Homo sapiens: one gene and its partners. The protein of the gene in region 1 interacts with the protein of each later gene in a pairwise test. Each region holds a gene or a part of one and is shown in the gene's direction. Other genes may lie near its edges.

The links.
Region 2: the proteins of AQP2 (region 1) and ERMP1 interact in binary tests that used the Homo sapiens proteins (3 or more experiments, as listed by UniProt).
Region 3: the proteins of AQP2 (region 1) and PANX1 interact in binary tests that used the Homo sapiens proteins (3 or more experiments, as listed by UniProt).
Region 4: the proteins of AQP2 (region 1) and PMP22 interact in binary tests that used the Homo sapiens proteins (3 or more experiments, as listed by UniProt).

What each region holds. Positions count from the first base shown.
Region 1 is NC_000012.12:49,953,076-49,959,848, forward strand, and holds the end of AQP2 (aquaporin-2), read left to right. Parts: intron 1-1,058; exon of another isoform or gene 1,059-1,079; coding exon 1,080-1,244; exon of another isoform or gene 1,245-1,273; intron 1,274-1,554; coding exon 1,555-1,635; intron 1,636-2,323; coding exon 2,324-2,533; 3' UTR 2,534-5,803; downstream 5,804-6,773. UniProt on the Homo sapiens protein: Forms a water-specific channel that provides the plasma membranes of renal collecting duct with high permeability to water, thereby permitting water to move in the direction of an osmotic gradient. Plays an essential role in renal water homeostasis.
Region 2 is NC_000009.12:5,822,427-5,830,557, reverse strand, and holds part of ERMP1 (endoplasmic reticulum metallopeptidase 1), read left to right. Parts: intron 1-5,338; coding exon 5,339-5,466; intron 5,467-6,556; coding exon 6,557-6,662; intron 6,663-8,131. UniProt on the Homo sapiens protein: Within the ovary, required for the organization of somatic cells and oocytes into discrete follicular structures.
Region 3 is NC_000011.10:94,123,659-94,132,286, forward strand, and holds the start of PANX1 (pannexin-1), read left to right. Parts: upstream 1-5,182; 5' UTR 5,183-5,654; coding exon 5,655-5,835; intron 5,836-8,628. UniProt on the Homo sapiens protein: Ion channel involved in a variety of physiological functions such as blood pressure regulation, apoptotic cell clearance and oogenesis.
Region 4 is NC_000017.11:15,234,327-15,242,457, reverse strand, and holds part of PMP22 (peripheral myelin protein 22), read left to right. Parts: intron 1-2,846; coding exon 2,847-2,987; intron 2,988-4,576; exon of another isoform or gene 4,577-4,673; intron 4,674-7,173; coding exon of another isoform or gene 7,174-7,211; exon of another isoform or gene 7,212-7,239; intron 7,240-8,131. UniProt on the Homo sapiens protein: Might be involved in growth regulation, and in myelinization in the peripheral nervous system.

The sequences.
Region 1 (6,773 bases):
GAAGGAGAAACTGAGGCCAAATTAAGTAGTCCCATGGCAAGTCAGAGGCCTCCAAAGTGTCTGCTTCCAAAGCTCTTTTCACTGTCCTCTAGAGACTCTGCATTGGACAACAATAGGAGGGATTGAGGTTAGACCCTAGAGAGACCCAAGGGTTCTGACCTGATGTCTCGGACCCAGGGGTGGGGGTTCAGGGCCTGGAGAAAGAGCGTGGGAGCTGAGAGCTGTCACTGTTCCACCCAGTGCAGTGCCCAGCCCCAGAAGGCAGGGTGTAGGGTACAGGGTGACAAAACCCAAGGAGAAATCCAGTGCTGGGTGCGGCCCAGTTATGAAATCACCTCTTTACTCAGCCCCGAGTTCTCTCCTTACCCAAGGCAGGGTCTGCTGAGACCATGGGCAGCCTACATGGGTGTGGAGGCATTGTCCAACACAGCTCCAGGGCCCTTACCCCAACCTCCATAGGATGTGCAGGGAGCAAACTAACAGGGCAAACCTGAGGCCTGAAAGGCAGTGGGGAATAGACAAGGGTTAGGGAAAGAGGTAGATTCCGGACTCATAGCGGAAAGGGGCACACTAGGACTGTCCCCCAGACCCAAGTCCCTAGACCCTGTCTCTGGGAGCCATTTAACCTCAGGAAGAAAGACCACAGGCCTCTCATTGCACCAAGGTCTGATGGTCTACAGACAGAGGAAGGTCTTCCTGCTAACCGGCCCAAAGCTTCCTGAGGCAGTTGAAACCTCTTCCCTTCTTGTTCTTTGGGAAACAGAAATTCCGGATCTCAGCATTCTTTTCCTCTCATACTGCAGGCTCCCAGCCTCAGGCCCCAATCTAATGGGCTACAGAGTCAGTTTTGCTACCTCTGGCGGGGGGACCATGGGCATCCTGGGGGATCAGGGGCTGCCTTTGGGCCAGGGCCCAGGAAGAAGGGATCAGTCGTTGCAGCTAAGGCGTCTGGCAAGCCCAGGTGTTCCGGCTCCCAGCCCAGAGGCCCCCTGGTGCCTCGACTGCAGGTGGACAGGAAGATGGAGCCAGAGAGGAAAGTGGGCTCAGTGTTCCCCTACCCGCCTCTTCTCTGTCCCCAGCTCAGCAACAGCACGACGGCTGGCCAGGCGGTGACTGTGGAGCTCTTCCTGACACTGCAGCTGGTGCTCTGCATCTTCGCCTCCACCGATGAGCGCCGCGGAGAGAACCCGGGCACCCCTGCTCTCTCCATAGGCTTCTCTGTGGCCCTGGGCCACCTCCTTGGGGTAGGTCATGGCCATGGGTTCCAGCCTCCCTGGAGGAACAGACACACAGACCACTCCAGAGACAGACACAGAGACCCCAAGAGGGACACATACACAGAACTCTCAAGAGGAACAGACACCCCAGAGGTTTGACTCCTAGATACCCCAGAGGGACAGATATCACTCCAGCCCATCTGTAAATAAAACGTGATGTTAATTGTCCATCACGTGGGTTCCCTTTAGGCTGAGGTCAAGCACTGCAGTGCGGGACAAGGACTTCCTGCCCTGTCCTCACCTCCCTTCTCTCTTTGATGCCCTCCTCCCACTGCAGATCCATTACACCGGCTGCTCTATGAATCCTGCCCGCTCCCTGGCTCCAGCTGTCGTCACTGGCAAATTTGATGACCACTGGGTAATGGCTGAAACCCCCTGCCCTCCCCTTCTCTAGAAACCCATTTTAGAGGGAGAACAAGAGCTGGAATAGCATGGGATGGGGGCTCAGCAGCGGTACCCCAAACCCTCCACACTCCTCCTGGTCCTGGGGAGCCTTGGGTTCCACCCCTCAGATCTGATGCCAAAGACTCAGTTTCCACGTCTGTGAATGAGGATGACAACAGCTTACCTCACTGGCTTCTTGGGAACAGTAAGTGAGGTTACCGGTGTAACCCAGATAATGCAGTGTCTGGCACTTAGAACTCTATAAGTGGTAGTATTTAGCACTTATCTGGTGCTTAGTATGTGGTGAGCCTTGTTCTGAGTGCTTTGCAAACATTAACTCAGTTTTCACAACCACCCCAGGAGGTAGACATTCTTAGAGTGAAAGGCACAGAGAGGGTAAGTAACTTGTTGAAGTGCACACAGCACTTAAGTGGTGGAATCAGGACACACACAGGCAGTGGCTTCAGAATTCGCACCCTTAACCCCGCACTGACAAGGCTTCCCCAGCAGCTGGCGTTGTCGTTGTAATTACATAAATAAGCATTTTACTAGATTAATGTCGGGGAGGAGAGGTGCGGCCGCAGAGTGTGCCGCCGGGGCCTGCGGGCTCCGCGTGCCGGTGCCGGCGCGGGTGCCAAGCCGCCCTCTCCGCTCGCCCCCAGGTCTTCTGGATCGGACCCCTGGTGGGCGCCATCCTGGGCTCCCTCCTCTACAACTACGTGCTGTTTCCGCCAGCCAAGAGCCTGTCGGAGCGCCTGGCAGTGCTGAAGGGCCTGGAGCCGGACACCGATTGGGAGGAGCGCGAGGTGCGACGGCGGCAGTCGGTGGAGCTGCACTCGCCGCAGAGCCTGCCACGGGGTACCAAGGCCTGAGGGCCGCCAGCGGCCTCTACGGCCCCGACGGACGCTTGTGAGGCCCGAGGCAGAAGGGCCCACCCCGTCCCTCCTCTCCCGCAGGTCTGAAGTTGGCCCCCCAGCGCAGAGTAGCTGCTTCCTGGACGTGCGCGCCCAGGCCAGTGCTGTGAGCAGGCGGGGAGGAGGCTGCCGGAGGGAGCCCTGAGCCTGGCAGGTCCCCTGCCCTGAGGCTGTGAGCAGCTAGTGGTGGCTTCTCCAGCCTTTTTCAGGGAACTGGGAACTTAGGGGACTGAGCTGGGGAGGGAGGCAGGTGGGTGGTAAGAGGGAAACTCTGGAGAGCCTGCACCCAGGTACTGAGTGGGGAGTGTACAGACCCCTGCCTTGGGGGTTCCGGGAATGATGCAACTGGTTTTACTAGTGTGCAAGTGTGTTCATCCCCAAGTTCTCTTTTGTCCTCACATGCAGAGTTGTGCATGCCCCTGAGTGTGAACAGGTTTGCCTACGTTGGTGCAAGTGTGCATGGCTGGGGACTTCTCACTTCCCCTTGCACCCCTTCCTCCCCAACCTGCAATAAATCCGCTTCTCCTGCAGTGGATGAGTGTGGGTGCCAGTCCTCCTCAGGAGAAGGGGAAGGGAAGGAGGCCACTTTGAGAGGGCTGAAGGGAGGGCCTTGATTTCCAGCCGCAATCTGGCTCCTCCTGGAAAATTTCCCCCACCTGCAGCGCTGGGCCCCAAGGCTTGCCAAGACTCATTGCTGGAGGTAGAGAGGTGTCAACCAGAGAACAGCTCCCCTAGACATGGCCTCTGGAAAAAGGAAATCTTTGGTGGCCAAAGATTTCCTTTCTGTGGTGAGGGAGAACCTCTCCAAAGAGGAAGCAGGCATATGAGTGCGCACGCCTTCACGTGTGTGTATGCTGTGTGTGCCCGGGACCCCCGTCTCCAGGGGTGCCCCAGACCCAGAGATTAGCCTCCCACTTCGGCGCAGAAAACAAAAGCCCTTTGTGGGACCCGGGCCTTTGTCTTGGGTGAGGGGAGATTTGCACCTAGACACTTCTTGAAAGGAGACACTCAGTTTCACAAGTGAGCCCTCTTGCCCAGCACACACCTATGGCTGGCTGGGCAAGGCGCTCAGGCATGCAACCATGGGCACCAGGCAATACCCATCCATCACCCATCTCACTCTCCCCAGTCCTCAGGCAGCAGCTTTTCCACCCCAGGAATCTCTGTTCCTTCTCTGTCTGCCTCTCCACAGCCCGTGATCCCCTGCTTCTGGCTCCTACCACTGGACAGTCATTGTGGATAGAGCAGCCTGCTGCTCTCAGGACCAGAGAAGGGAAATGACTTCTCCAGGCAGAGGCAGATCTGAGTCTAGAACCCAGGCTTCTAAATTTCTAGGCCAGTACTACTGCTCTCAAAAGAGATTAACTGGGATTAAGTGAGATGACGCATGTAAAGATGCTGTGTAAACTGTAATTCTTAATACCATTATCACGCATTACTAGAATCATTTCATTATTTCTGCTTCCTGGGGGAAGGATGCAGAAGGAGTCTGATGCTCAACATCCCTTACCTCCTTTCGTTGATGGCCAAAGCAAAGGAGAGTCCTGGGAGCCCACAAGATCCAGGCAGAAGGAGATGGGTTTGGGGCTGGCCCCATCCTGGCCCAGCCTCTTAACCTCTTCTTACCCTGAATGTGTGCCCTATCTTTTCTCCCACCTCCTTCCTCCTACCACCCAGCCCTATCCATTCTCTCCTTCCCTCTCCAGCCTGCTGTATAAGTAACATGTGGGTCATACCTTGAACCCCCCTCCGCCCCCATGCTCTCTGTGGCCTCCATGCCTTCAAGACTTCTGTCTGTATCTATCTCACACTGCACCAAGCACCCACTGTGCACCAGGCACTAAGTCTCTAGCCTCTTTCTCCCTTCTGCTCCCATCCAAGAAAGACAGTGTATAAGGAACATCTCTGTAATTGTGTCCCCTCTCATCTATGCTCTTTCCTGTCTTCCTTGACCAAAGCTCTCTTTGAGGTCCAAAAAAGGCTGCCCTGGGCCATATGTGCTATGGAGAGGACTCTCCCAAACCCCCAATAGCTAGTGACAGCCACTTGGCCTCACTACCAGAAGAAGGGTGGAGTCAGAAACCAAAGTGACCTCCAGAGCTGTCCTCCTGGCACCTGAGTGTCCTTGCTCTAGAGGTTCAAAGGCAGCAAGGCAGTGAGCTATGAGCCCAGCATGGATGTGTCTCAGGCACCTCATCCCCACCCCACCTCACCCCAACAAACTCCTCTAGAAGAAGCCAAGAATTTCTCTCTATGTCTGTTTCACTTTTTGGATTGCATCTCCCCAAAAACTAAATGTGAAATCCCTACCATTTCTAGCCTCTATTGCCCAGATTGGAGTCAGAGGTCAAAAAAGGATTCCAAGTGATGGAACTCCAGGGGTGGAGGGAAATTGGCAGTTCCTGGCATCTCTTGTGTACCAGCTGCTGTGCTGGGTGCCTTGCATGCACGGACTTATCTGATCTTCCTCAAACTTCAGATAGGTTAGGGAAGGACAAAGGCCCCCAGCCATGAAGGGTTTTGCTATTTCCAAAGCTTCCCCTTATCGTCCCCTGTGATTATCTCCCAACCCCGTGACAAAGGTAGAGCAAATATTGTTCTTCCCATTTTACAGATTCAGAAACCAAGGCTAAGGGACTGGTCTAAAGTCTCACAGGTAGTATATGGTGGAGCCAACACTTGAACTCAGACCTTTTTACACAAAATCCCATGATTTTTCCACTGAGACAAATCCTAGGCTCCTGGGAGGCCCTGGCAGAAGCCAGAACACATGGCTGGGCCTTTCCAGCCCAACCCACTGTCTTGCAGTGGACGGAGAGCCTTGGCGAGGGCAGCAGGGTAGAGAGGACAAAGAATGTGGGGCTGGTTTCTGCCCTTTAAGAGCACCCGGTCAGTCAGAGAACAGAGATCACACACACCAAACCAGACAGAGGCAGGGCAGCATGGAGACAGGTAGACAGACCTCCAGGTCCCTAAGCTGGGGACAGAGAAGGTTCTGAGCTGTCCCATACTCCCACTTTGTGCCAAATGACTTTGCACCTGCAAATGGTGCTTCAATGTCGTTTTGTATCTTTAAGCTGTGATGTTGTATATATACAATGCCTCCCAGCTAGACTGTAAGCCCTTTGGGGACAAGGGCTGCTTCCAGTTCTTGGATGGCGTTCTCCTATCTACCTTCCTTCAACTGCTCTGCATATAATAAGCACTCAATAAATGCTCATTTGCCAATAAGTACTGTTTCTTCCACAACTTGGCAGTGGTAATAGAAATACAGCCCAAGGTACCAGAAGACAGGCGGAGCTCCCTACCACTTCTACCCCAGCCCTCAACTTCTCCCAGGGAACTCAGAAGTCCCCATATCAGGAGAGGAGGGGAAGGGCTCTCCCTAAGACATTCAAATTCCCCCTGCCACAAATGGGGAGACCCATCACTCAGCTCACAAAGGTCCCGGGCATTCCTCTGGAGCTGCCAGGGCAGGGCCTGAGTGCTTGGGCAAAGAGAATTCCGAGACATAATGGGAGTTTACTGTGATGACTTGAGGACAGAGGGACTCTAGTGGTTAGAGAGATGGAAGAGCCTAAGACACAGGCCCTAGGAAACAGAATCAGCTGCCCTGTGTGAGTAACCTTGACAGATGAAATCTCCTTCTTTGGCCTCACCAGGCCCACTCCTGATGACCAAGTCTATGTGGCGACCTGTGGTTCCCATCTCAGGTCACTGTGTGACCCTAGGCAAGTGACCTCTGAGTCTGGGTTTCTTCATGGGTAGCTTGGAATCAAATCACACAGTGGAGGCCAATTATAATCTCTAACTTTGTAGATTATATTCTGAATCTCTAAAATGGCAAGAACAAGGTCTTGGCCTTTATAGTCCCTCATTAGTTCAAATCTTCAGGTCGGAGCTTCCCCTGGCAGCCAAGCCTCTTGTGAGCACTTGTGAATCCTTTCATTCTGAGATGCTGGAGTTTGAGACCTGTGGACTATGAAGACAGTGCCTGGGGAGAGAGGATGAGAAAGCAAGTGAAAGGGTGCGAACTGGAGGCAAGTTCAGCAGCAAAGGAGCCTGGCCCCCAATGGCCTCTGGGGTCATCAGGGTCATTGTCCAGCCCAAGTCCCAGGCCCAGAAGAAAATCCTGCGTACAACTGGCATGTACAGCTGGCATGATTGGCTGGGGACAAAGCGCTGGGACCCATGGAAG
Region 2 (8,131 bases), on another chromosome or scaffold:
CATTCTGTCTTCTCTTAAGTGCTTTATTAATATTATTTTTTGGTGTTAATGCCAGCAGCCCAGTGATAAGACTTGGAATGTTTCTGGTAGACTGAAGCAGCTTTCTCAATGTTACCAGACAGTGTGTGTGTCCTAGTGTCCTGGAGTTAGGTTCTGACACTTAGAAAGTGTTTTACTCAGCTGGGTGTTATACTAGGCTTTGGGGATACCACATAAGGACAGTCCCTGCCTTCAAGGGTTACTGCATGGTTTTAGAGCAGGGGTGTCCAATCTTTTGGCTGCCCTGGGCCACATTGGAAGAAGAAGAATTGTCATGGGCCACACATAATATACACTAATGATGGCTGATGAGCTTAAAAAAAAAAACTCATGTTTTAAGAAAGTTTACAAATTTGTATTGGGCTGCATTCAAAGCTGTCCTGGGCTGCGGGTTGGCGGATATCTCTTCTAGCAGATTCTGTTGACCTATAAAGTGAGAATTTTGCTCCACTGAGGGTGCCATACTGTTAAAGTACCTAATTAATGTGTAAATCTTTCTCTGAAAATCATTTGGCAAAATAGAATACTTGCATTTAGGACAGTGCCTGATGCAGTATATATTTGTCAAATGAATGGGAATCCCCTAAATTGAACTTCCATTTATTAAAATATTTATTTTTCAGAAAATTGTATTCAGTGGTTAAAGGGATTGTAAATAGGGATGGAAAATAGCATTTACAATGGCATAGCATTTTAGTGGTAGACAAGACCTGAGATGGCATCTGGCTGAACCCCTCATTTGATACAGGAGTACATTTAGCTAGCTGGTCATCGCTGATCAGAGACAAAACTAGGATAAGATGCTGGATTTCCTGGCCAGTCAGTTCTTTCAGCTACATTTGAAAGGAAAAAGAATATTAGGGTGTAATTAATACTCCCTTTTGCAAATTGCTTAACTTCTTAGTTTCTCATCTGTGTAATGGAGAAAATAATAGTACTTTCCTAATAGTGTTGCTTGGAGGATTAAAAATAAGTAAAACGCTAAAATAGTACCTGGCATGGAAAGTGATTTTTAAAAGTTTTTATTAACTCTTATGTAATATTAACACTTCTGGATTACTCGAACTTATAGCAGGCCAAATTTGAACGTCTAGAGTTATACAAAATGTAAGTAAAATTTATTTGCTTGATAAAATGATTCATATTAGAATATCTTCATTTAGAAAGCTTGACAATTGCGTTTAGAATGTAACTTGCATTTTCAAAAATCAGTATACACACGTTTGTTAAATAAGCCAGAAGTACCTTCGTGTGCTGCTGGGGTAACCAGTGGTTTAGTGTTTTTTTTTTTTTTTTTTTGGCTGGGGGGCCAAGTCTCACTCTGTCACCAGGCTGGCATGCAGTGGCACAATCTTGGCTCACTGCATCCTCTGCCTCCCGGGTTTAAGCGATTCTCCTACTGTGCCACCACACTCGGCTGATTTTTTTTGTATTTTTGGCAGCGACAGGGTTTCACCATGTTGGCCAGGCTGGTCTTGAACTCCTGACCTCAAGTGATCCGCCTACCTCAGTCTCCCAAATTTCTGAGATTATAGGTGTGAGCCACTGTGCCCGGCCACCAGTGGTTTTTTTATGTCCATTTCAAAGCAGTAATAAATGTCACTCTTTGCCCACTATTATGATGCTTAAATTCTGGGAAGCGGCAAATAAACACCATGGTTGCTTAAGAACATTATATAAGAAGGCTGTATATACAAGAATTAGCAGCAAATGTAGGGACAAAAGAAAAAAGTTTCCCCTCTACCCTTCATAGTTCTTAGCTGAGTGGACCCCTGTAACAAAAGACAGGTTAAAAAGAGAAAAACCAAATAGAAGTTTATTAACACATGCACTTCATGTACATGGGAGATACTCAAGGAAAATGAGTACATCTCAAAGAGGTGGCTTAGAAATCTGGCTTATGTAGCATCTTCAACCAAACAATACATTTTTAGAGAAGTGACAAAGGAAAAGGACCTTGAGTCTCGAGGGGTGGCAAATTGAAGGAAGGCAAATAAATGGTAGAGAAAGGTTAGTTAGTAAAGTGTTATATAGATTCCTTTTGTGCTGTTGCCAGGCCACCAAAAGTTTAAAGTTGTCTTTCTTGATCAACCTTTGTACTTCCTGGTGGAAAGGGGAAGTGGGGACACCTTGGTAAATGTATACCCTGCTTTTAGGCAAACAAGGGGAGGGCAGAGAGCTTTTTTGTATAGTACCTGCTTCTCAGTTGCCTTCAGCTCAAAATAATCCGTATGTCAAAGTGACATATTTTGGAGTGCATATTCAGTTACTCTTTACAAACATAGTGCCAAATGTTACAGATTGTATATGTGGAGTCTAATAATTAAAGGCCAGCATTTTTGTGAGCCATTAGAACCCACTTTTTATTATTATGTTTTAAATAATAGAGACAGGTTCTCACTTTGTTGCCCAGGCTGGTCTTGAACTCCTTAAGTGATTATTCTACCTCATCCTCCCAAAGTGCTGGGATTACAGGTGGGAACCACTGTGCCTGGCCTAGAACGTACATTCATTCATTCATTCACTTATTCATTTATTTATGAGGCGGAGTCTCACTCTGTCGCCCAGGCTAGAGTGCAGTGGCGCGATCTCGGCTCACTGCAAGCTCTGCCTCCCGGGTTCACGCCATTCTCTTGCCTCAGCCTCCCGAGTAGCTGGGACTATAGGCGCCCACCACCATGCCTTGCGAATTTTTTTTTTTTTTGAGACGGAGTCTCGCTCTCGCCCACGCCAGACTGCAGTGGCGCTATCTCTGCTCACTGCAACCTCCGCCTCCCGGGTTCATGCCATTCTCCTGCCTCAGCCTCGCTATTTTTTTGTTAGTAGAGATGGGGTTTCACTGTGTTAGCCAGGATGGTCTCAATCTCCTGACCTCGTGATCTGCCTGCCTTGGCCTCCCAAAGTGCTGGGATTACAGGTGTGAGCCACTGCGCCTGGCCCTAGAACCTACTTTTAACTAAAATTTTATAGGAATACCCTTAGCAACAATCTCAAGGCAATTTCTGTCAATAATAAATTGTTAAAAATAGTGTTTCACACATTCATCAAATAGATTAAGCTTGTCCAACCTGCAGTCCTGGGTAGCTTTGAATGTGGCCCAATACAAATTCATAAACTTTCTCAAAACGTGAGATTTTTTTTTCAATTTTTATTTTATTTTTTAGCTCATCAGTGATTGTTAGTGTTAGTGTCTTTTATATGTGGCCCAAGACAGTTCTTCTCTTAATGTGGCCCATGGAAGCCAAAAGATTGGACACCCCTGAAATAGACTATCACCTAAATCCTTTTAGTGGATGGCCTAATTGAAGCACTTCTTTTTTCTTTTTTTCTTTTTAAGTTCTCATCTGTGTATCTAGGACTCAGGAATTGATACCAATTAGGAGTAATGTTATCCACAGAAAAGCCTTAATTATCTTCTTGAGTTTGCTGTGTGGTTCCAGGTCGTTGGTAGAAGAGGCATTGAGTTATTTTGGGGGTGGCTTCAATTTCAAGGTTAATTCTAAATGGAAAGGGATGTCAGCTAACCACCTAGCCCTTATAGATACTGTCCTCTTAACTTTCCTTCCCTTTCTTAAAGATATTTGACTCTTCTGTAGTTCTCTTTTAACGCACCAGAACCATTAAAATAAGGGAAGCTGAATGGACAGTTTAACTTTTTAATCAACCCTGTATAGATACCTTTCAATTTCCCTTTCTCTCTTTTTGAATAAAGAAACATTTTATTGTTTGCTCTCTATTTTAAAGTAACTCACAGTGTCAAATTAAAAAGAGAGTTTATTTCATTAGGTTTTTGGAAGGTGACACATTTTGCTAATAGCAGCATTTTCTATTTGATAGTAATTAAATGATTATTACTTTGTTTCACTTCGATTGAAATACAAACCAGTAATCACCACCAAGACAAGTATGGTTAATAGGTAATTTCTTCTTAAGTAGGAATGGGGTCTGGAATTTAACAGAGCCCAAACAAGCATTTTAATTTTAGCTAGCTACAGAGCCTTCCTCAGATTTGCAAAGAGAGGGAAAAATGAACATTGAATACCTACCAGGTGCTAGGCACTGGGCATTATCTTGTGTGACTCTTAAACCTGTGAGGTAGGTATCATTAGCTTGCTCTTTCAACCAGGAAATAGTGGAGTAAAGTGACAGAGCTCAAATTTACTTCCAAATCTTTCTTGCTCTCAAATCCACGCCAAACTCTTTGGCACCCTGCTTCAAATGTGTAAACCCAGAAATGTTACTGCCTGAGTTACGTTAGTGCTTATTTACTTTGATTACTCTTTAAGTTTTCTGATATGGAAAGTTTCAAATATATTCAAAAGCAGAATTGTTTAATGAACCCCAGTGTACTTATCTCCCAGCTTCAGCAGTCTGATCTTGTTTCTTTCCTACCACTACCCTCCCAACTTCTTGATTATTTTGAAGCAGATCTTAGCTATATCAGTTCCTCTCTAAAAGTATTTCACTCTGTGTTGCTGGCAGATAAGGGCCCTTTTTGATACCACCAATTGCCTCACCTAAAAAAACCTAACAGTAATTCCTTGGTATCATCAAATATCCAATCAATTCCTTTAATTGTCTCTTACAATGCTTTAAAAAAGCAAGACAGTTAAGTCATCTTTATAGTTACTTTTAATTAACATACAAAATTTCTGAATCAAGAAGAGGTTCAGAGATTCAACTGAGTGTGTGTTCTGGGACCTAGGATACTACTTAGGTCATTAGTCTCCTTTCCTGTGACTTACTAGATTAGGTATCTTCTTTTTAGTTTTCCATCACATAATCCCCTTGGAGAAGCCTTAAAGGAATGTTACACCATCCAAAGTGACCTCTCTGTGCAGCTTTTATGATTTTGGCAGGAAAACAAGCAAGAAAGGAGTGGGTGCAGTGGGAGATGATGCAGGAAGCTGTGAGCACCAGAAGTGAGACTATTACAGAGGATGTGGAATACGGGTAAAGAATAGAACAGATTGCCTTGGTTTGCTGAGAATACCAGTTTCCAGTATGACTTTAGGTCCCCTCAGGTTACTTCATTTAGCAGACACTAATTGAGTGACTCTGGTGGGTCAGGCATGGTAGTAGGCATTGAGAGTAAGTCAGTGAGCAAACCAGACAAAGATCCCTTCATGGAACTTACTGCTGGTGGGTGTGATTGTCACCTGATGATGACAGAGCTATGCTTCTGGTCATGCAGCTATTGTGATGCTTCTCTGAGGAGAAAGCTCCATTCCTAGTCCTAATGGGTCATATTGTAAACATTTTAAAATCTGAGCAGCAAATTTGTTTTTCTGATTTGAAGGTGCCAGTGATGATGCAGTTAGCTGCTCAGTGATGCTGGAAGTCCTTCGCGTCTTGTCAACATCTTCAGAAGCCTTGCATCATGCTGTCATATTTCTCTTTAATGGTGCTGAGGAAAATGTCTTGCAAGTGAGATTTTACTGTTTTAAATATCAGGCTTGAATAAGGATGAGATTAATAATAATAGCTAAATATTATTTACTAAATAGTAAATGCATTTTTTATGACTCCTGTGGGTAGTATAAAATAATATGCAGAAAAATACTTTATGAGCAGTACTTTAACAAATTCACAACCACTTATGTAGAGATGTTTAATATTTGGAAAACTCCACTTAGCAGATTATTGTGGCAGGATTTGATTGAGAGAAGGGCTCTCGCTGGCATAATTACTCTCCTCAGGTTTTCTTTGACATTGAAGTTTCAGAGATGTTTTGAGACAGGCACAAATAAATGCCCAGCCATATGGATCGTCTCTTCTCCTGTTCTCTTTTTTTTCTTTCTTTTTAAAAAGAGAAGGGGGCCAGGCACGCTGGCTCATGCCTATAATCCCAGCACTTTGGGAGGCCGAGGCAGGCAGATCACGAGGTCAGGAGTTTGAGACCAGCCTGGCCAACATGGTGAAACCCCGTCTCTACTAAAATTACAAAAATTAGCCAGGCGTGGTGGTGGGTGCCTGTAATCCCAGCTATTCGGGAGGTTGAGGCAGGAGAATCGTTTGAACCTGGAACGTGGAGATTGCGGTGATCCGAGATCGAGCCATTGCACTCCAGCCTGGGCCACAGGCTCTGTTTCAAAAATGAGCAAACAAAAAAAGAGGGAGTCTCGCTATGTTGCCCAGGCTGGTCTCGAACTCCTGAGCTCGGGTGATCTTCCCACCATGGCCTCCCAAAGTTTTGGGATTACAGGTGTGAGCCACCGTGCCTGGCCCTCTTTGCCTTTTCTTTTGCACAGCCTTGTACTTACCAGGGATGTTGTTTGGCACCGCTGATGGTCACCAGGCTGCCTTCTGTGATAGGTGACTTTCCGAACCTGATGTGCATGGCCATTATGCATAGGAAAAGAAGCAGAAGATGTCTTTGGATACTGCCTTTGAAGAGCGATTATTTTGTTTTCATATTCCTTACCTCATCAAAGTAGTCTCTCTGTGTTTAAGCAAAATCAAGACTGATAATTTAAGATTGTTTAACAAATATTTGTTTTCTTTCCTTCTCTTTAAGGCCAGTCATGGTTTCATTACTCAGCACCCCTGGGCTAGCTTGATTCGTGCATTCATTAACCTAGAGGCAGCAGGTGTAGGAGGGAAAGAACTTGTATTCCAAACAGGTATGTGAGATTGTGCGTTGTATATTTTAATGCAATTCTAGTTTTTGTAAAAGTAGAAAGTTTTTGATTATAAATAATATCTTCAATAAACAGTCTCTTGAATGAGCATTCTTTTTAAAGCATGAGGTGGTGTTAGCTTGTCTTTGTTAAAAATTTTGAACCAAATAATGCAGCATCTAACACTTGTATAGTGCTTATTATATGCCAAGTGTTGTTCAAACCATTTCATATATATTAAGTCATTGAATCCTCCAAACAACATGTAAGATAAGTACTGTTACTTCCATTTTAGAGATGAAACTGAGTCCAGAGAGATTATAACTTGCCTAAGGTTTCACAGTTGTTTAATGGCAGAGTGTGATTTGAACCTAGACAGTCCGGGTCCAGAAACTTTGTTCTTAACCTCTAATTGGATTGTTATATAGGTAGTGAACTTTTAGCCACTGTGGGTGGTTATGATATAAATATTGTTAAATGTCAATCATTTCATGAGTTAAAATGAGAAAATTTACCTGTAGTGTATGTAACAGGTTTAAATTTATCATTGATTTAGTGGAATGTTAAAAAAATTTAGTAATATTTAATCAGCCAGAATAATTTTTATTTTATTGTTTTTTTAGAGACAGAGCCATGCTCTGTCACCCAGGCTCGAGTGCACTGGTGCCATCATGCAGCCTTGACCTCCTGGGTTCAAGTGGTTCTCCTGTCTCAGTTTCCTGAGTTGCTGGGACTGCAGGTGCTTGCTATCACGCCTGGCTATTTAAAAATTTTTTTGTAGAGACAGGCTCCCATTATGTTTCCCAGGCTGGTCTCAAACTCCTGGGCTCAAGTGGTCCTCCTGCCTTGGCCTCCCAAAGTGCTGGGATTACAAGCATGAACCACCATGCCTGGCCCAGAGAAATAGTTTTAGTTTTATGATTAAACTTTTCTAAGGATATCAACTTAGCCTATTTATGCCTAGTGTTCCATTATTGGAACGCTAAGCATGTGGGAGTTATTTATATCCTACTGCTCAAGCCTCATCGCCAAGGTCTGATTTTTCACACATGCAAAAATTAAAAAAATTGCAACCTCAGGCATAAATGGGTTTTAATTGTCTTTATTAACAAAATTCAGAGCTCATAGATTTTTTTAGTGGGGGCATACTAAAATTTGACATTGGAAGTTCCATTCCATTTCCCTGCCCTGTTAGAAATTTGGGTAATGCATTTTATCCAGAGATGTAGCATTTGCTAGATGTTTTAATATTCAAGAGTGTGTTGTGTGCTGAGATGGGCTAGGTGAAGTAAGATGATGTGGGAACTTGTTTTGTAGCACCCTCTTAAGACCTGATTTTATTTAAATTATGAAACTATGCTAAGTATGTCTTCATAACCTAAACAATACTATATTTTAATAGTCTCCATCAAACTTATTTTAATCTTTTATCTTTCAAAATGTATGTATATTTTACTTTAGCTAAGCGTTTG
Region 3 (8,628 bases), on another chromosome or scaffold:
TGGGTCTTTACCAACTTAACATACCACCCTCGTTTTGAAGGAAAAGACCCTTTCCGACTTCTAAATATGCAATCATTAGCCAACTTCCCCATCTCTGATAGGACCAAGAATACCCTAACAGGACATGCGATACAACTTTTGCGTTCTTACATTTCCAACCTCACCTATTACACAAGCAATGAAAAGCCCATACACAGCCCTGTAACTACAAATACCATCTTAACTTTCCAAGCCCCTTTATGCATCCAATGCAACCTGTTATCAGGTCTGCTCCTGGGGCACCTACTACCACATCAGTGTAATTACACCATACAACTTCAAGCCCCAACTGATCATAGTAACTTCCAAGTCACTCAAACAGCTCCATTCAGACGGCTTGTCCACGTCTCAGGGGCCCCCAAAATCATCACCTCCTCCCTGCTTAACAAACAGTCCAGGTTTTGTAATGGCAAACATACTCTCTGCATGACCATTCACCCCTGGACCCCCTGCAGCAGTATCCCCACCACTAGTGAATGCCATCTCATCCCCTCTTTCAATCGCTCTCTCGAATGGTTCCTAGTAGATACAAAATGGTTTTTTCTCCAATGGGAAAATAGAACACAGGGAGCCACTCAGTTTGCTCCCAACACCCCTTTCCAGCCACTCATAGCAGCTATCTTGGCAAGTATTCTAGGAGTATAGGAAAATGAAAACAATAAACTCACACACCTTTATAACATACACAACCAGTTCTGTCTACCCAGCCAAGGTATATTCTTCTTATGTGGAATGTTGAACTATATCTGCCACCCCACTAACTGGAAGGCACCTGCACCTTAGTATTTCTAAGTCCCGACATTAACATTTCCCCAGGAAATCAGACCCTATCAGTACCCCTCAAAGCTCAAGTCTGTTAGTGCAGAGCCATACAACTAATACCCCTACTTATGGGGTTAGGAATGGCTACTGCTACAGGAACCGGAATAGTCAGTTTATCTACTTCATTATCCTACTACCACACACTCTCAAAGGATTTCTCAGACAGTTTGCAAGAGATAACGAAATCTATCCTTATTCTACAATCCCAAATAGACTCTTTGGCAGCAGCGACTCTCCAAAACGGCCGAGGCCTAGACCTCCTCACTGCTGAGAAAGGAGGACTGTGCACCTTCTTAGGGGAAGAGTGTTGTTTTCACACTAACCATTCAGGGATAGTATGATATGCCACCTGGCGTTTACAGGAAAAGGCTTCCAAAATCAGACAATGCCTTTCAAACTCTTATACCAACCTCTGGAGTTGGGCAACATGGCTTCTCCCCTTTCTAGGTCCCATGGCAGCCATCTTACTATTACTTGCCTTCGGGCCCTGTATTTTTAAACTCCTTGTTAAATTTGTTTCCTCTAGGATCGAGGCCATCAAGCTACAGATGGTCTTACCAATGGAACCCCAAATGAGCTCAACTAACAACTTCTACCGAGGACCCCTGGACCGACCCGCTGGTCCTTTCACTGGCCTAAAGAGTTCCCCTCTGGAGGATACTACAACTGCAGGGCCCCTTCTTTGCTCCTATCCAGCAGGAAGTAGCTAGAGCAGTCATCACCCAATTCCCAACAGCAGTTGGGGTGTCCTGTTTAGAGGGGGGATTGAGAGGTGAAGCCAGCTGGGCTTCTGGGTCAGATGGGGACTTGGAGAAATTTTCTGTCTAGCTAGAGGATTGTAAACACACCAATCAGTGCTCTGTGTCTAGCTAAAGGTTTGTAAACGCACCAATCAGTACTCTGTAAAAACACAGCAACCAGCGCTCTGTGTCTACCTAAAGGTTTGTAAATGCACCAATCAGCACTCTGTAAAAATGCACCAATCGGTGCTCTGTGTGTAGCTAAAGTTTTGTAAATGCACCAATTATCACTCTGTGAAATGGACCAATCAGCGCTCTGTAAAATGGACCAATCAGCAAGATGTGGGCGGGGCCAAATAAGTGAATACAAGCTGGCCACCAGAGCGGCAAGCTGCTCAGCTTCCCTTCCATGCTGTGGAAGCTTTGTTCTTTTGTTCTTCACAATAAATCTTGCTGCTGCTCACTCTTTGGGTCCACACTACCTTTAAGAACAGTAACACTCAACACGAGGGCCCGTGGCTTCATTCTTGAAGTCAGTGAGACCAAGAACCCACCAGAAGGAATCAATTCCGGACACACTATTTTCCAACAAGTTCTCCATCTGGCTTCTATTTTAAATTCATTAAAAGTAGGATAACATCATATGGAATGTAAAAAATTGCCAAAACTGAGGGCAATTTATGCAACTGCTGAGATTCACTCCAGATCCTCAGAGGAACTTGCTATGTAATGAAAAAAGAGATACACAATCCATCATCCCATCACAGGAGGCAAAATGAACTAACTTCTAGGCCAGAGGAGAGAGTAACAAGGGAGGGAAGGATTCATTACAACTGGAGGATCCTGGAAGGCTTCCTAAAAAGGGGGCATTTGAGCCTAAAAAGGGGCCATTTGAGCCTATCGGATGATTAGCTTTTGGCAAGGAAAGAAGGGAAATGGCACCCATGATTTCCTGACTCCCAGAAAGCCCCTGTCCCAGCTCTGAATGTCCCAACTGACACATTCTCCCAGGCCCTACTTATTCTCTGCACCTCCCTTGGTATACCCCACTTTTCACAATAATCACTCTTTCTACCTTGCATTATAGTTAATTGTGTGCATGCCTTATTTCTCTTGCTAAGCCATAAGGTCTTTGAGGAAATGGAATCCATTCACTTCATTTCTGCTTCCCCATCCACTGAGCCCAGAACTGGCCCATCACCAGCCTCTAATATATGCCTGGAATGTATGGATAAATGAGTGTGAACTGGGCCAGTTTTAAAAAGTGTTCAGATTCCTTCAGACATTTATTTAATAATATGAATTAAAACATCAACTCTGTGTGAGGCATTTGTGCTAAGTGTTGAGGATAAAAGTGGTACACATGGGCATGGGCCTACCCTCAAGAAGCCGATCACATAAAGTGGTGGCAAACACTAAATAAATGAATAAATATTTGTTGAGTTGCAATGGTGACTATTTTTAAGAAGGAAAAATAGAGAACAATGACAGATGAAATGTACCTAGATTCACAAGGTGCCAGGCACTGGGCACTACCCACGTGTTAACTCATTTGGTCCTTATCACAGTCCTAAGAGGTACAACCTTTTTACAGATGAGAAAACTGAGACACAGGAGAGTCAAAGAACTCCCCAAGACTAATAGCTAGTAACTAGTGTGGCTAGTATTATGGGAGAATTTCACAAAGGGACCTAATCTAGTCTGTCTACTTAGGGAAGGCTTTCCCAGGGAAGTGACATCAAGCTGAGGCCAGAAGGGTGAATAAAGGTGGGCCAGGCAAAGAGGCCACTGTGGGGAGTGTTTTGGGTGGGAAGGCCTGGAGGAGGCCAAGGGCTTAGCTAACTTGAAGAACTGAAAGGAAAGCAGTGAAGCTGGTGGTGAGGTAGGCAGAGGCCATGCTAAGAAATTTGTATTTTATGCTAAAAACAATGTACACTTTAAGTAGAAAAGATGATCCGACTGGAGTTTTGAAAAGCTCATCCTGGCAGCTGTAGAGGAGAATGGAGGGGGACCCTGTCTCACATATTTCCTATATGTGGTTAGGAGACAGGATGGTGAGTTGAATTGGGTATTGGCAGTGCAGGTGGAGGGGTGTCAGATTTGCTATATTTAGGAGAGAGAAGCAAGAGAATTTGAAAATTGGTTATGGCAGCTGTGAGAAATGGAGTGTTGAAGATGGTGCTCCAGGATTCCGACTTGGGTGCACAGGTGGCTGGTGGTACATTTAGTAAGATGGGGAAGATGGAGTTCAGGTTTAAGGGGAAGATGAAGACTGAAGTCCTGGCCGTTATGAGTTTGAAGCCCTATGAGCCATCTACGCGGAGAGAGCTGTATACGCTCTTGGATGTGTGTTTAGCGGCCAGGCTGGGGTGGAGAGGTACATGTGGGAGTTGAGGCTTGTATCTGTGGACCCACAGAGAAGGGAGCCAAGCCCTGCCCCAAGGAGCCCTCATGTTTGCAGGTCCTGCCTGCTTCAAATGTTACTGGTGATAACCTACATGTCACATTTGACAGGGCTTCCAAACTAAGCCATCTAAGAAAGGTCTTATGATTCATGGCTTAGATCCTGTCCCTGAGTAAAAAATCTTACTGTGAGTCCTTCAAATCCTTTTGTCAGTTCCTCAAACTGCTGATGTACTGATTAGTATGTAAAATACTGACATTGAAAAGAACACTGACTTGTTTCTGAATCATATAAACTTTGATTTTCTTGTGCACAAAACATTTTAGCCTGTATGTTGTCATCTGCAGCCAGTGACTGTAACCTGTGTACCATACCCTCCGATGAAAAAAATCCCACCTCTGATATAAGGGGTCCTCCTCCCTTTTCCTAAACTTTCTTCTAAAACCCTTCCAACGTGTAACAAATTTTGAAACATGCCCAACTTTGCTGGTAAGTCTTCTTGGGTGGATCCTCACATTTAGCTTCCAATAAATCAAATTATTTCTACTTCAACAGCCTTAATTTCCGTGGACACTGGTCAGAGTATTTCCTCCTGTCTTTCCATCATCCACTTCCTATGAGCTGTTCAGAAGCAGCTCTCTGCAGCCCCAACACCCACCTACCTGCAGGCCCCCCTCTCTCTGCTGGCTCCCGGAACAAGGCTCTGATTGGGATGGCAGAGGAAAGAGAAACGGGACCAGCAGCGCTACTCAGGCCTCGAAACTCCACACTCACTACCGTTTCCGCGCCACCCTCTCACGCGGAGCTCCTGGAAGGGTCCAGCGCTCCCTCTGCAAGGCACCGTCGGTCTACACCGCTCGATTGGCCTTTTATGGCACTGACTGTTCTTTGAAGCTTTTGCAGCTCCTTCTAACCCGATTTCACCGTGTTGGAAATGTTGGGGGTGGGGCGTAAAGGGGGCCATCCCATCCACAGAAAGAGTCGCTTGCAGAAATGATTTTAAAACTCCCGGGTGCCAGGACGTGAGGAGAATCCGGCAGGGAGGGACGGGAGAATTTCCAAAGGTGCCGCTCAGTGGGAAAATCCCTTTGTCAGAGAGTGGCCCGAGGGGCGCGGAATGCAGCCGCGCCCACCCCGCCCCGCGTCACCGCGTCTTCCGGAAGCTCCACGCCCCTGGGTACTTGGTTTCCCCGCATGGTTCCGGAAGAGCGCGGCGCAGCTGGCTGTGAGCGCAGGGCTATCCCGGCGGCCGCTTCGGCAGCCAGGGCGGCGCGGAGGGGCAGGGCCAGAGGGAAGCGCTTTGTTCCGCGCGTGGTTCCCGCGCCTGGGGGTGCGCGGGAGAGGCGCGAATCCGAGTGCCGCGCGCGGCCCGGGGACTTGCACGGGCGTGCGGGGTGGAACCGCAGGAAGCGGAGCTCTCGGGTTCCCGCCCCGCCCCGCCCCGCCGGCGGCGGAGGCAGCGAGCGCGAGAGCCCAGCGGAGTCGCTGGGAGCCTGAGGCACCGAGACACAAAGGCAGGCGGGATGCGGGAGCAGGCAAAGGGAAAGCGAAAGCCGCGCGCCCGGCCGGTGACTGGGTGAAGGCGCCGCGCAGCTTTCCCGACGCCGGCTGTACCCGGACCTCCTGGTCGAGCCTGGCGCGCCGCAGCCATGGCCATCGCTCAACTGGCCACGGAGTACGTGTTCTCGGATTTCTTGCTGAAGGAGCCCACGGAGCCCAAGTTCAAGGGGCTGCGACTGGAGCTGGCTGTGGACAAGATGGTCACGTGCATTGCGGTGGGGCTGCCCCTGCTGCTCATCTCGCTGGCCTTCGCGCAGGAGATCTCGATTGGTAAGCCTCGCCCAGGACGGAGGGGAGTGGCCGCCCCGGTCTGGCCCGGTGAGCTGCGATTTTACGGCTCACAGGCCCGAGTCTGGGTACGCCCAGCTGTGATGGTCGTGAGCGTCAGGAAGGGCAGTGGCCCCAGTTTTATGGTCCAAAGCGTTCTTTGCCCAGGTGTTTCATTGGTACCCTGGTCTACTCTGCTCGCATCCCTACTCCTCAGTTCTTTTGTTCCTCATGCCCCTCTGATCGGACTGTGGCTTATAGTTTATGTTCCACCCTTAGAACTGGCACCTTGCCACCAGATTTGCCAAGAATAGCTGTGTCCCCGTTTTTCACCCCTGTCTCCTACATATTTGTCCAGCCGCCTAAAATTTTACACCAGAGAAGTTCCTGAGTGGCTACATGGAGGATGTGAAGACCGGTGCTCCATGAGAAGTGTGTTCTTTCAGTGTCTTACATATAATTGGTATTTGCTGAGATCTTAGCTCTCTAGGGTTGTGAATGATAGGAAATATCTGCACTTGGCAGGCATTAGAGGGATCCTCAACTTGGACGGTCTTACAAATGTGAGATGAACAAGTCCCCTTCCTGTAAATTATCATTTGAGCTTCATAACAGTTGTGTGAGATTGGAAAGTCTGGTGGTTTGGGCAGGATCACGTGGCTACGTGCCTTACCTTCCTCATCAGCTGTTCTGACTCTCCACACAGGAGAGAGTGTTTATGAACCAACAGGAAGGTAGCGCAGGAGGGTTAAATACAGTTCTGTGGCAGGGGAAGAGAGAGGACCCAGTGCGGCTGGACTTTGGGAAAACTTTTGTCAGAGGGTGGGTGGGATTTGGACAAGAAGGAGTAAGACCTTTGTTAAGGTTTTGAGATGGCAGAGAATGTTATATGTTCCTGGAAAGAGAGACACAGTGACTCTCCTAGCCAAGGCAGGAGGATAAGTCAGAGTTCCTGGAGTCTGAGAGTGAATATGGGCCTGGGTCAGCCTGGAACAGAAGAGTGTAGGCTGATGGTTTCAGAACTGTGAAGTTATTGTTTGAGCAGAGGACAGACTGGTTGAATGATGGTGGCATTTAGGGTCTGGGAAGAAGGTGAGAGGATGGGGCCTGGAGGGCTGGGTGCCAGAGAGCAAGGCATCGGCTGAGGTCTTGTGCACAGAGGGTGTGAAGAGTGGAAGAAAATGGGTGGGTGATTGCTGTGCGATCAAGGAGTAAATAAGCAGCACTTGAGTACCTAGTATTTAATAGGCCATGAACGGCAGTACTGGTCAAACGTGCTGCGGAGGTTGTATGTCTGGGTGAGTGGAGTGTGGTGTTGGTGGTGATGGGAATTGTGAAGTTGAGGGAATAGTTGATTAGGAAAGAATGACTATGAGTGTGATTTTGCAATCTGCAGCACTAAGTTGTTCAGCTTGGCAGGAAGTTGCCAAATTCATTGTGGAAAATAGTTTTTAGTTTTCCTGCTCTTTGCGCAGGCATAGTCATCGGGATGTTCTTTAAGTTTCCATTTGACAGTGGATTGAGGCTTCCAGCTGAAAGCAAAACCACCAAGTAGCATGAGTCCTGGAGATAATCTCTCCCTTTGGTCAATTCCTCCTTCAGTACTGGCTGTGTGCTGAACTCGGTGCTGACCTCCAAGGACCCGGGAGTAAAAGAGGCATGATCCCTGTCTTGGAGGTGCAAGTCTTGGGTACCTGGTTGGGACAGAAAGGCAGGAGGAAGGAGTTAGTCACCCTCTGTGACCAATCTCCACCTCTAGCACATGTACTAGAGGGACTCCTAAGGCACCTGTACCTGTAATGCCTTAGATACGTCTAAATTGGTGGGCTGTCTGAGAGGTATTTTTGGGGTATTGGGAGTGGTTTTAACTAGCAAGAGTTTGAGCTCATGCTGTGTGCATAGCACTGTTGTGTGCTGAGGGAGATGGGAAAGGATTTTGAGACCTTGTTCTTGCCCTGCCCTCTCCCTGCCCTGTGGCAGTTTACTATGCAGTTGGGCACTAGAAGGTATCTGTTAGCAGGTAAGTCATTCAGCTGTGTGTAATTCAGCACCCAGCCAGGTGTTGAGCTATGAGCTCCAGGCTGGTGAAGGTTGGCAGGCACTTGGGTGAGGAGCTGTCAAGCAGACTCCCATGTTTTCTGAAGTGTTTTCAGGAGTTCCAGGGGAGGACAGACATGTGGGATGAAGCTAACAGGACCAGGGAAGACCTATTAGATTAGGTATACATTTAGATAAAACCAGAAGAAGGGCTTTTGAGAAGAGGGGAGAGGTACATAGATTAATACATGGAGTTGGTACAGTGGGAGGGATCATGTCATGCAGCATTTAATTTTGTGTAGTTAGTAGTATGCACTCAGCCAAAAACAAACCAAAAAAAAGAACAGCAATAAAGGGAGAATGAAGTAATTGAAATGGAGCTGGCACTTTGCCCACCATATTGGCCAGTGAACTCAGGCCCCGGGAAGACACTGAGATAAGGCCTGCAGACTTAAAACATGGCTTCATCCTTCCTCTGTTGATAATTACTGCTTCCCTCTCTGGTGCTTGGAATACTCTTTTGTTGAACTTAACACAGAGCTTTATAACCTGTCTATGCATGTTTTGCATGGAGATTGAAACTACTCTATAAACATTTGTTGTGAATTAAAGGTGATAGCTTTTGGCATCATCAGACCTTGCTAATTGATTGTTATGTGCATGATGCTGTACCTTGGCAATGGGGTGTCAGACACACGTAGGACATAAGAATCTTTCCTCTGGAAGCACGGTCTAGTAGAGAAGTTGAACGCATAACCC
Region 4 (8,131 bases), on another chromosome or scaffold:
AACCAAACAACTCTCTGGCCACTTTTATCCTTTCAACATAAGTTCTATTTTTTATTATTAATTTATCTTCTTTCTTTTTTGTTAACATTTGCCTGAAGCTTCTTTTCAGAATCTTTTTTGTTTTTGACTGTTGCTTGTTTTAGGTGTATCTATTATATTAGAATATAGCTACAATGTCTCTCTTTTTTTTTTTTTTTTTTTTTTTTGAGACAGAGTCTCTCTCTGTGCCCAGGCTGGAGTGCAGTGGTGTGATCTTGGCTCACTACAACCTCCACCTCCTGAGTTCAAGCGATTCTCTGCCTCAACCTCCCAAGTAGCTGGGACTATAGGTGTCCACCAGCACACCTGGCCAATTTTTTTGTATTTTTCGTAGAGATGGGGTTTTGGCATGTTGGCCAGGCTGGTCTTGAACTCCTGGCCTCAAGTGATCTACCTGCCTCAGCCTCCCAAAATGTCTTAATCAAAGATAAAATTCCATATCTTATGAGTGCCTTGAACCCATTCACATATAATGTGGTTGATGATAGACTTACTATCTTAATGCATGTGTTTTATTTATTGTGCTTATGGTTGAAAACCATCTTCTTCATCTCTGGATCATCAGAGTCAACCAGAGGGCTTGGCTCAAAGCAGTAGGTATTCAACAAATGCTCATTGAATAAAAATGTCCTTGATCCTCTAATTCTGATTTGATTCGAGAAATAACTTATGGCAAAGAGCTCAATTGTAATGGGGTTGGGACTAAAATTCAAGTTAATGTTGAAAGATGTTTCAAGAAGTATTTAGGTTATATTATTAAATATTAGACACTTTCTGTTTATATAGATTTAACATATAAAGATTTTAAGTTTTCTGTGTATGTGAGGTCTCGTAGTAGTTTCTGCTGAAAATGACAGGGGCGCGGGGTTAAGGGTGAAGACAGTATCTCAGGATTGGAGAAGGAAATCTAAGATATTGTCTCCACCAGCCATACTCCTCATGAACATGCACATGGAAGGACATTTCCCAGCCAAAGTGAATCCCTTTATTTGTTTTAGTTTCAGATTTGAGTCTCAGATTTCTTTGTAATTCCAGCTGCATCTACCAAAGTGCTAGATAATTTTTTTATTTTAAGCAAACAATATTATGAGAACATTATCTTTATTGCAAAGTGCTCCTCCAGAAGAACCTCTATGCTGGATAAAGACAAACATTTGATTAAGGTTATGTAAGAGTGAAATCAGGATGGCTCACAACCCATTAGCCGTCATTTTCTTACTTTAATTGACAAAGAAATTGAAAAAATGAAAGAAGCATATGTTGTGCTTGAATGTGAAGAGTGCTAGACTAGAATCAAAGGCCTCTTAGATTTGGCTGTGTCATTTGGGCTCATGAAAACACCTCTGGAAATCTCTTTCAGTGCAAAGGAGCTGGACTAGTTGATCTCTCAGGTTTCTTCCAACTCTAAAATATCTCCAGTCTGTGCCTTGGAAACATCTTAGGTGAAAATCTAGGAACAGTTAACCTAATTTGCACCCTTAAAATTCTGCCATGAGCTGCTTACAACTCAAAACAAGTTTATCTTACTCAGTTACTAATTATAAACCATCCAGATTTCAGAGCTGTGAGTACTGGGTGAAGCATTGAAGGTATGCTTTTGAAGCCATTACATATGGCAGTTACTGAGCTGAAAGGATTAAATGCTGCAGCTTCCCCAGTTGCCCTTCCTCCATGAGAGCAGTGCCTGCCCCCAGCATTCTGTGGCACTTGGAAGACAAGACAGAGGCCAAATGCAGATTTTTACCCTGGGCTTCCCTCTACAGTGTGGAACTCAGGTTGTTTCTTCTTTCCTCCCTGAAATGACATGAGTTTGCAGCGGATGGTGAACTGAAGAAACCATAGGAGGCTCTGTCTTCTTGCCTGAATTTCAGTTGGAAGCTTGGAGATTTGGGGTTCAACAGAGATAAGGAAGTGTAAGCCTTCATCCCGTCTGGTGGTTGGCGATCACACACCGCTCTGTGCTGAGGCTAATGGCCATGATCAGAGTTGACCAAAAAAAAAAAAAAAAAAAAATACGGGTTGTCCAAGCAAATTGATTTCCATACCTATAGAGAGCATACCTTTCTTCATCAGTATTTTCTTCCATTCTTCCAAAAAATTACTTTGGGCTCTAACAGCCATTCCCGTGATCTTTACCTCTCCTTGGGGAATGCAGATAATTTGAATAGTGGTTTTAAGCTATTTTTCTTGGAATACAGAAGTTCTGATAAGCCCTTCAAAGACCCCTGAGGGCAAGAAGAGGGAAGGTAGTAGGCAGGGCTCAGGCCCTCTTTAACACAGACACATGTACATAAGTAACACATTTGCACCAACACTGGAAGGAAATTCAATATATTTTAAAATGACTTTAACTCCTAGTGATGGAACTATAGATATTTTTTTACAGCCCTTCCCTGAATGTTCACATGTGTTTTTTATATATATGTGTGTGTCACGTATTTGTATATGTGTATATACACATATATATAGAAACACGTACATATTTGTATGCATATTTGTACATATAGGTATATATGTATGTAATGTGTACATATTGGCACATGTGTGTGTTTGTATATGTATATATCAGTACATATAGATGTATGTATATATGTATATATTTTTTCCTCCAAAATAAACAATAAAGAATGTCTTCTTAGATTGCAAAAGTGAATTGTCTGAGTTCTGCTAAGGAAAAAGGACTTCTGCTTCTGCTGCCTGTGAGGACTGTGCTGTCAGCAGTCATGGCCCTTCAGGCCCTGCACCTCGAGGCAGAGCCCTCCCCCGGCCATGGCCAGCTCTCCTAACCAAGTGTCTCTTTCCCCCAGAATGGCTGCAGTCTGTCCAGGCCACCATGATCCTGTCGATCATCTTCAGCATTCTGTCTCTGTTCCTGTTCTTCTGCCAACTCTTCACCCTCACCAAGGGGGGCAGGTTTTACATCACTGGAATCTTCCAAATTCTTGCTGGTAAGTTGTGGATGGTAAAGTCCATGTGGAAGCGGGGTGCATCCAAGTCTGCGGAATGATTAGTTTAGTAGAAGGATGTGGCCTCAGAATGACTGATGTTCATGAGTCTCCCCACTGGATGCTTTCCATAAAGTGAGGGTGGGTGCTTGTATGTGTGGGTGTGTACCTGTATGTGTCTTAGAACTTGGGACTTAGAACTCTCCCCTTCTCCCTGGAATGAGATGCATATGAAAGAGAACTTAGAGGATCTGGAAGGAAGGTCCCCACCCAAGCCAGGCGTATCAACAGGAATGAAACTGCAATCTGGACACATAATCAGAGGTGAATACTGAGGCTATCTGTAGAGCAAAGGTCAGGCTTGAGAGCTGTTTCTGTAGATTACATTATGCCTCCAGAAAATGGCCCTGATGTGCTAAGAACTAGCAAAGTAGTTATCAGGTATGTGTCTTCCACCAATAGGTAGTGATGAAGCCACACTGACAAATTCTCACCTTCCTTGCTTCCAGTTCCTAGATTCTACTGGGCTTTGATTGACTGTTGTCATCCTCTGGTGTCTTCATTTTGACACTCTTGTGTCACATATTGTCATTTCCAAACATGGGGCTATGACAACACATGAAAACACATGAGAGGTCTCCTTAATCTCCTGCCTAAACTGTCTTCAAGTTCCCTCTTTAAATACGTTATTAATATGCATAGTGTGCAGAGTCCTAGAAACTTCTGTTACACAGGGTGACATCTTCCAACTTTGTCTCTGGATTCTGCCTAGCATCTTACATGCTTACATCTTACATCTTACATCTTACATCTTGCATTCTGCCTAGCATCTTACATTAGCTCTTACATGTCTGTCTGTTGACTTACTGTTGACTGAACCAGCAGGGCATTGGAGAGAAGTAAGAGCTAGATGTAGTGGTGGATTCTGTGGTCCAAATTCATAGATCACAAACTTCATATGTACCAGAGTATGTCTAGGTACTGGGAGATGTTCTCAATTCTGACCCTCTGAGAGGGCAAAGGATGTAGCATCTCTTCTCTGAGTTGGTTGTCAGAATGCCCATGGTACCATTTCACCACTCTGTCCCCAGGAGCAGTCATTGGAAGGTTGACGTAAATAGGGTTGTATGGGAAGACACAGCCCAAGGTTAGATGTTGGTGACCTTGTCTAGAAGACAGAGAGTTCCCCTTTCCTGAAAAAAGGAAGTAAATGATTAACCACTTCTCATTAAACACTCAAATACAACATTTCAATACTCATGGTTTTGAGATTTCAAAACCAGACAGTGCTTTGCTACTTACACATGTCTTATGACACCAAGCCAAGCTCCTGGATGGTTGCTGGCTCTGTTAAATGACTAATTATGCAAGGAGATATCATTTCTAGGTACGTTAAAGTGAAGAGTTACCCTTACTCAATTTTCAGTTGGAATAAAAACAACTGTAACATATTCTGGGGTTTCTTTTTTTTTTTCTCACTCGTTTTAGTTTGATATCAAATCAAATAATGATCATATCCATTGCATCAGTGGATATGCCCTCAAGATAATATGGATTTAGAACCAGAACTTTCATAATGTATTTCTATTGAAATGTTAGTTTCATAAGCGATGATTGGGTTTTCATGCCCATGTGTGAGATGTGCCTCGCTCAAACCTTGTTATGATTTGGCACGTTACCCATCTGATGTGAAAAAAATTACATTTTATTTGTACAGGCTCGTTATTTTACTGATGAATAATTTGAGCCCACCAGAGGATAAATGAATGACCAAGGTCACCCAGCTCATGACAGGGACGGTTGAGTGTTACACTGAATATAGTGAGGTACTTCTTATATTTTAAAGACAGAATGCACCAAAAAATTTAAAGAACACAAAATCCAAGGCAGAAGCTCTGCCTTTTATATTATCTTTTATTGGAACTGATTTACAATGGAAGGTAAATGCAAATTTGCACCATGTATTATTCTGAAGTTCCAAACATCTGTGATGAATACAAGCCTGTACTATAAGACCCAGTCACATTGAAAATATGGAGCTGAGAAGAGGTAAGCTGCTGTTGAATGGGCTCCTTGGGATAGCCAGTACCTTCATCTTCATTCATCCTGCTGAGCTGTTTCGGCTTTAAGTTCTTTAACAATGTCTTTTTAGCAACATCATTACATCATTTTAGGCCAAAACTCAAAGTCCAGAGATAAGAACCCTTAAGTCACTCATGTAACTGCACTGTGTGTTAAAAGTATTTCAGTTCAGCCAAACACTCTTCTCCTAGGTATTGCGATTTAAGTATATTTACTAATCCACTCTTGCTTCACTATTTTCATTCTCCTCCAAAGTCAATACAAGATGTTTAGAACTGTGCTGGAAGTGCAGAATTCCGAATGTAAAAGCGCATGACTTTGTCCTCTTTATCCCCTTTACATCTAGCTGCTTACGTCTCATGAAACTGAATTTTCAGTTATCTGTTGGTCCACATTTGAATAAGAAATTATCTTGAATTTGAAATGCTGAGCTGTAATAGCAGTTGTAATTTGTAAGTCCTGAGAGTGTCCTGTCCTCCGTTGTTAATCCCAGTCAAGATCATCTGAGAGTTGGTCTCCAGGGAACCTCAGATCTCTAGGATGTTGCACTGGAAATGGCTGCAGGATCTTTCCACTAATTCTGAGAACTGAAAGAGTTAGGAACTCTATTTGGAGAGTTCCTGGTTCCCTTATCGTGTGACAGTTCTAAGTCAATTTTGTCATGTGGTTTTCTGACTCACAGACTAGTAAGAAGTTAGTAATTAGAGAGCTAAGTAGATTAGGGTTGTTGGAGATGAGAAACCCACGTTTTGGGAAAACCTGGCAAGTGACAACTTAACATCAAGGAAGTAGTCAGAAAAGCTAAAACTGACAAACAGAAGGTAGAAGAAAGTAGCTCCACACTCATGGGATGTGAAATCTACAAGCGTGCATGCCCGGCAAATGCCTCTCCAATGCACTGGAGCGTTTTAAGTGGAAACCACTAGAATCTCTGTGTAGTCTCCGGAAGTGGCTGTGAGGGCTGCATTATCTCTGCACAGCTTCCTCTTGGTGGGCCCAGCTGTGATCTTTATGGATGGCACACATCAGCTTTCAGGAAAAGCACATGAAAGGTGCTAGGGCTCTTGGAGCTGACTGTAGGTTTGGGAGTTGTCTGTCTCCTTGCTCTAGATTACAGCTCTGTGTGTTGTGTGGGGTCTCCATGGTTTGCCAAATTATCTCTTCCTCACTTAGCCACAAGGCTGACAGTTAGGAACTATCTCTTCTTGATTGCATTAGGTTGGCTGCTTCCTGAATGCATATCAAAAGGCTCCTTCCTTTAGTTCAGTGCTTTCAACCTGAGCTGTGCATCAGAATCACCTGAGGTCCTTTAAAAAAAAAAAAAAGACAGTGGGCGGGGCGCAGTGGCTCACGCCTGTAATCCCAGCACTTTGGGAGGCTGAGGTGGGCAGATCACTTGAGGTCAGGAGTTCAAGACCAGCCCGGCCAACATGGTGAAACCCTGTCTCTACTAAAAATAAAAATAAAAAAATAGCCAGGCGTGGTGGTGCGTGCCTGTAGTCCCAGCTACTTGGGAAACTGAGGCAGAGAAGAATCACTTGAACCTAGGAGGTGGAGGTTGCAGTGAGCCAAGATCATGCCACTGCACTCCAGCCTGGGGGTGACAGAGTAAGACTGTCTCAAAAAAAAAGAAAAAAGAAAAGAAAAAAGACAGTATTCAGGTCTCATCCCTGGAGACTCTCATTTAATAGTTGTGGGATGGATCCACTGCCTAGGTGACTCTGATGTGCATTTAGGGTTGGGAACCACTGACATAGCCATTAAACTGTCCCTAATCCCACTGTAAGGTTTTCTAGGATATTTTCCCAGAAATAACTAAACCACCTTCTTAGAGAAGGAACATCCTGATCCTGCGTCTGGACTTTGGAGTCATTCTTATTTTCAGAACCTATAGCCATCTATTCCTTGACAAGATCTGTTGGGTTGGGTTGCACTAGACTGGAAAACATCAAGAAATTAATCTAGACACAGACCTAAAAGGAAGATTTGCACGTTTTGATTTATTTTACTGCTTACACCCAGCATCAAGCTCCATGTGGGGCACATAGAGGAGCCTGAATAAAACTATTATTGGTTGGATGATTAGATAATTGTGTTTCCTCGGCAGAATCAAACTCAAGTCAAATGTGTGGTTACCGGGATTAAGAACAGAAAGAATAGAGGGGACTCCTGAGTGAGTTTCACTTTCTCTCTCTTTTTGTTATTGTTGTTCATTTGTTTTGTTAATAGAAAGATCAATATAGCTATAGAGCATTTAAAATAAAAGGATTTGGGCCAGGTGTGGTGGCGAATGCCTGTAATCCCAACACTTTGAAAGACTGAGGTGAGAGGATTGCTTAAAGCCAGGAGTTCAAGACCAGCCTGGGCAACAAAGCGAGATGCCATCTCTACAAAAAATGATTTAAAAATTAGTGGGGTGCCTTGGAGCACGCCTGTGGTCCCAGCTATTCAGGAGGCTGAGGCAGGAGGATTGCTTGAGGCTGAGAGGTCAAGACTACAGTGAACTATGATCAGGCCCCTGCACTTGCTCCAGCCTGGTGACAGAGTGAGACCCTGCCTCTCTAGGAAAAAAAAAAAAAGAATTTGGTGGGGGGGGATTAATAAAAGTTCAGTGCCATCCTGTTCAGAGTGATTCAAAGGTGGCTTAAGTCAAATACCACATTTAGAAATTTTTGTTAGGGACGGATGATTATGGATGTCTCACTGGCCATGCCCAAATCAGAGTCAATGCTATGGGTGGCTTTCTAGGCAGCAATGGTCATTTGGATACTGAAAATGTAAAAGGAGTGGGCTTCAATCACAGAAACACAGAGAAGTCTCTTGCTTTCAGAGGAACAGGCCTCACAGCCCCTTCCTGCCCTCCCTTGTTGCCCTGAGGATGAAGTGGGAGGGAGAAAAAGGCACCCACTCATCAACCCAACATCATAGCTGCACCTTCCAGTGACCACCCTGGTGGTCTCACTGACATCCCTTTCCAGCCAACTTCTCTCTGACTTCTGCCCCAGGCTCTCAAATGAAAGTGCTTTTGCGAGGTTACCAAAGTACACTTTGAAGTCTTTAATTTG